2 separate regions of the Homo sapiens genome follow, and region 2 is linked to region 1. Evidence: fine-mapped expression QTL. A gene starts in region 1. The other region holds a variant in brackets. All regions are shown on one strand. Distances are between the middles of the regions.

Region 1 (2,500 bases):
AGTGGCTGGAAACCGCCACACCGATGGGGAGCCCAGCTGGCCCTGGCTCACATTCGTGCCTTCGTTCTCATTTCCTGTTTCTCGGCCTCTCCCTTGTTTCTCTTCCCACCCCACTCCACGCCACAGTACAGCAAAGCTTTCTCTCTGCACACAAACTTCCCCTTCCCGGCCTTCCCACAGCCCTGGCGATTTCCCACGCGGGGCGGGCCGGGCCGGGGGCGCGGGGCAGGGGAATACTGTCGTGCCCGGAGCGCCGCGCTCACCTAGGATGGTGAGGAGGCGGGCCCACAGCCTCCCGCCTCCGTCCGCCGCGCGCCCCGCCCGCCCGGCCGCTTCCGCCCCGTCTGCTCCCCGCCCCCGCCGACCCTCCGGCTCGGCGCTGACCCCGCGCCCTCCGAGCCGCCGCGGGAACTGCAGGGCCGCCCGGCCGCCTCCTCCCTCTCCCGCCCCACAATCCCGCGGATCCGCTCCCCGGGGCGCGGAGGCGGGGAGGGAGGGGCTGCCGGGGAGAGCGTCAAGGACTCGGCTCCGGGCCGTCCGCTTCTTGGGGCTCCGCTCTGGGCGTGGGGCAGTGGAGCTGGACTCCCTTCCCCGCCGCCCCCGGGCCCCGCGGGGGTCTGCAGATCCCGCTTCCTCTGCCCCAGTCCTCCAAGTTTGCGTGCTTTCCCACAGAACTGGCGCAGGCAGGGGCCCCTTCGCTGGGGTGGCGAGGCCAGGCGCGCATCTCCGCCTCGCCCCCATTCATCCCGCCAAGGTGAAGCGCAGGGAAAAGGGGCGCCCCCGCTTCGCCCGCAACGTGCGTCGCTCCGGAACCCAAACAATGACTCCCCTGCCTGCCGCGCCCGGCCCTCCGCCCGCCCCACCGGCGCGCGGGGGGCACCGCCCGCGGGGCTGCCCCTGCCTGACCCCATTGTTGCCCGGCGCGGGCGATGCCCGGCGCCCAGGGGCGGTCCCCGCGAGCTGCCCCACAGTCCCGGCCGGCTCCGCCCACACCTTTCCAAGTTCGCTGGCGGGCGAGCCGCGGGGACGACCCGGGCGACAGCCCCCTCCCTCCACTGCGCGCCCCCACCCGGGCGGGTGCGGCGAGGGGTGGGGGCCCAAGCGGGCTGCACGCTTTTTGGGTCCCCGAATTCTCCTAAGCCTGTCTGGCGCGCTCTGACACAAAAGAGGAGACTTTCTCGCGGCTCGGCGCGAGTCCTTGCCCAGCGAGTTGCTCTCCAGGGGTCCCTCCCGCCGCAAGCCCCCGCGGGCCCCCTCGGCCGACGACTCCCCGAGCTCCCAGGGCCATGTGTGGGTTATTTGGGGTGCCGCAGCAAAGTGGTGCAGGTGAAAGGGAAGCGCTGCCGAGGCCCGGGGCCGGAGGGCGGGGGCAGGGGTGGGGCGGGGTGGGGCGGGGTGGAGGCGCCGCGGACCCAGCCCGGCGGTCCGGGCGGGGAGGCGAGGGCCGGGCAGTGGGTGTTGCCTTCTACCTCTGCGAGCGGGGAGGGGTTAGTTTCCCACAGGGGATTTCAACCATCACACTCAGAGCCCGCCTCCTAATCCTCGGGCGGAGCGGCTCGGGGGCCCCATTTTATGGCAATAAAGCGACTTAGCGCCTGCTGAGCGAGCCCCTCCCCGCCGCCGCCCCCGCCCTCGGCCCCACCCCGGGGCTCGCCGGCAGCGGCGGGGCTTTGTTTCTGGGGAGGAGGACCCGGAGCTCTTTTGTTTGGGGGTTTCTTGTTTTCGGCCCCCCCCCTCACAGCACCCCACCCCACCCCACCCCAAGCGCCTCTCCGGTTTCCTGAGCTGCGGGCTGCGAGGGAGGAGAAGCGGCGTCCTGCAACCCCCTCGGCTGGGCCCCGGGGTAATTCGATGCGGGCCTGGCGAGGCTCCCCACACTAGACCGGGGCTCGCAACTCGGCAGCCTCCACCCACCGGCCCACCCTACATTTAGCGCATCATGTGATCCGGGTAAGTCATTTGCAAGTACAACAGTTCCCCGGGTTGCCCCCCATTCATTTCCTGAGAACTGCAGAGAGCCGCTGAGAGGCTCTGCGTGTGCGTGTGCGCGGGTGACGCCGTGTGTGTGCGAGTGTGTGTGTGTGTGTGCGCGCGCGCGTGTGAGAGAGAGAAAGGGAGAGAGAGAGGGGGACTCTGTGTGAGGGAAAGAAAACAATTTCTCCTGCTCTGCAGCTTCTGTTCAGGTCTGTGCCGATTCCGTTTCTTATCAAAATAAACAACCCCCTCCTCTTTTTTTTTTTTTTTTGCCATCCCAAATCAGACCGTATTCTCTTAACGTGTTTTATTTTCCTTCTGTCATCTGCTCAAGTTAAATCATTTTGGTTGGTCTGTGTTCTTAAAGGGGGAAAGTGCTGGGAAGCGGGAGGGGGCCGGGGAAGGGCGATGCTGTTGCAAAGCAAGTAGCGTCGGTCGGATTCGTGGAGAAGAAAGAAGGAGGTTTCTTCCCCACCTCCCCTAATTTTTTTTTTCCAGAAGAAGTTATCAAGTAACGTGAATTAAG
Region 2 (2,923 bases), 70 kb before region 1:
TTGATATTTATAAACTTGCATCTCTTGTCATCTCTGTGTCAGACATTACCTCCAAGGCAACTGGAAGCCCAGTTTACCACATTTGGGAGCTGTTAATTACTGCTGACAGGGTTCATATTCATCAATTTTCTCTCCCTACTATAAAAATCTCTACAACCTGGAGGAGAGAGTTATCTTTTTGCAGCCCACCCTGAGCCTTCAACTTTGTTGTAGATTTCAAACTCAGCTAAGTGTGTCCTCAACCTCTCTACCCAGTAATGAGTTTCTGCTCCAGCTGCTTTGTTTCGGTTGACTCTTCAGTTTTCTTTTAAATAATATAAAGACAGCCTAGTCCTTCCTCTGTGTCTACGTCAGGGTCAAGAAAGTCAGGTGGCAGGCCAAAGGAAGTCAGTCATCAACTATATGTGGCTACCAAAGCTTTACGTGTCCATACAAATCCAAGATTGTGTTTGCTAAGTCAGAGTGAGCCAACATCAATTTTTAGATAATATTTTTCTTTACTCAATACACTTGAGTAGGAAGAAAGTCACACATGCACTTCAGTTTCTATGTGCCAAGAGGAGCCTCTCCCAAACCTCAAACTCCATCTTAGCATATCCTCAAAGCCTAGTGAGTCTCAGAGAAAAGATGCCAGTTGTCTTGGGAGAATAAGTTACTTTTCATATCACCCCAGATTTTGTCAGAAAGAACTTCATCTGACAATATTTCCTGGTGCTATAAAATGTTGCCATTTGTTTTATTATGAATTCACTAAGTTGGGTTAATTCAACAAAATGTATTTAGTGATTTCTCTTCTCCCCACGCTGAGCAAATTTGCTATCAGTCTATGTCCTTAGGGAATTTACCCTCTAGCTAACGTAGATGACCACTAGTGAAATAGTTTTTAGGCTATTCACAGAGCAAGCCACAAGCAAGAACCAAAAAAAATACATGGCAACCATGTCAGTGTTCACAGAAGTTCACTTTTTAAATATAACAATAAAGAGTAAATGGGAAAATAACTCTATGGTCATTTTCTGCTATCAGCATATGTCTAGTAATTTATTTTAGACTGGCTACTGGCTTCATAAAAAGCCCAACACTCAAAAGTCTTGAGATCTGACATTTGCAATAGTGGCAATAAACTAGAAAGAAGTTGCTAGGAAGATGCTATACAACCCTCGGTATAATAGCACAAAAATCCCAAATA[C/T]GCAGTGATGATGGTACAATCATCCACCAACCTCGAATTCCTGAAGTCCCTTCAGATGCCATGCAGAAACTGAGGTCTCTGAATCATTCAAGTAATAGCCGGGTTCATACATAAAATAGAATCTTCAACATGTTTTTAGATCTGAAATTTGCTTACAATTTAGAGAAGAAGGCAAGCCATTCTATGTATCTCTCAAAACTGCAATAAATCCTCCTCAAATAATTGGGCAAGACTCCTAAAAACCTAAATGATCTTCATAGAAAAGATTTTAGAGTTGACAGATTTCCAAACTTAAGGAAAAATAAATTGAGAAGAATAATTTTATAAGGGAACCTAGAGGATTTCTTACAGGTATTTTTGCATTTATTAACAAAGGTTTTTGGGATTAATAATTGTAAACAATGAGTCTAATGTATATTATTGGGGTGATGGTTACATCAAAAGCCCAAACTTTCCCATTACAAAATATATCCCTGTAACAAAACTGCACTTGTAACCCTTACATTTATACAAATTTGAAAAAAGAAAAAATTGCAAACATTTCAAAACCTTCCCTGGGCCAGGTACTTTGCACACATTATTTCCATTGTGCAACAATGCTAAGCAACATCCTCATCCTACAGATGAAGTTTAAGAACTTGTCCAAAGTCAGACACATAGTAAATAAAAAACTGGAATTTAAAAACCAGAGTTGTATCATTTCAAAGCCCATTCTACATTGGTGATGATGGTGGTGGTGATGGAAGAGAGGAAGGCACTGCAAAATCTCGACTTACTTCTGACAACATCTTTGTGCTTTTGTGGAGTTTCTAGCTTAAGTTTTCAAAAAACACAGATGTCTGTGTAGTATTTGTATCTTTTTTTAAGGTCTTTCTTCATCCAATCATTCAGGCTTTGCTTCTGAGTCTCCGCTTACATACTGTTCAAAACAGAGTCTTGGGGGACCACATATTTACAAAGCTGTCTTACAAATTGGCAAACTGCCTCCTATATTGGTCAATGGGAATGGCTGGGTGGTACTGTAGCTCTCTGTCTCTGTAACCTGAGCACTGGATCTGCATTTTCCTTGGCAGCTGTGTTTCCCTGACATAATTAATTTCTTGTGCCCTGTGGCTAGGGGAAGGACATTTTAAACCCTCTTTGCCAAGAAGAGTCACTTCATGCCAACCTCCACCAAGTTCAGTACAGATTTTCACATTGCATAGCATCATAATGTGTCCTGCTTTTTCACCATGATACATCTCAATGGCAGCTGTAATTCATAAGCATTACCTTTTTTTGCCTTATCCTAGTAGCCAGATTGTCTTAGATTCCATTAAGAATCATAGTGGACCATAATAGTCTTATTTAAAAAATTTATGAAGGTATTGATGCTTGATTTTTTACTCTTCATGTAATTAATTTACAAATCTGATGAGATGAAATATCTCTACAAAGGAATAGTGTTCCCTCCAAAGCTCAATTTGCCATCATCTTCTTGCATCTAGCCTAATTCCAGGTTAGAGAAAGCAGAGGTTTTCAAGCAACAGATTGAGATCTGCAATCTATGTGTAATGACACCCAAGTCTAATCTCCAGCCAGATCACTACCCTCAGCTCCAGATTTGTAGCAGCATTTGCAAAGAGATATCATCTCTTAGATGCCCCACACATTCTTCAAACTAAATATGCCCAGATATAAATTCCAAAACTAATTGCCTCTTTTATATCTCTTGACTTTCTTAATGGAACCCCA

Direction of the effects. Positions count from the first base shown, and alleles are read on the strand shown. Sizes are in standard deviations (SD) of each study's normalised expression.
In carriers of allele T in region 2, the expression in fibroblasts of the gene that starts at base 1,518 in region 1 tends to be higher than with C alone (large effect, 1.5 SD a copy in GTEx).

What was found. PIP is the estimated chance that this variant, and not a neighbour inherited with it, causes the effect.
Region 2: its variant is fine-mapped to the expression of KLF12 in fibroblasts (GTEx, PIP above 0.99).

Annotation. Positions count from the first base shown.
Region 1 is chr13:74,133,422-74,135,921 of GRCh38, reverse strand. It overlaps KLF12 (KLF transcription factor 12), which reads left to right and starts at 1,518. Exons shown (of 8, transcript NM_001400136.1): 1 at 1,518-1,950. RefSeq lists a silencer at 22-1,771.
Region 2 is chr13:74,203,082-74,206,004 of GRCh38, reverse strand. It overlaps a transcript of KLF12 not described here. Among named protein-coding and RNA genes, the nearest start is that of LINC00402, 27 kb to the left of the region's middle. The variant C/T (reference allele first, on the strand shown) is at 1,190.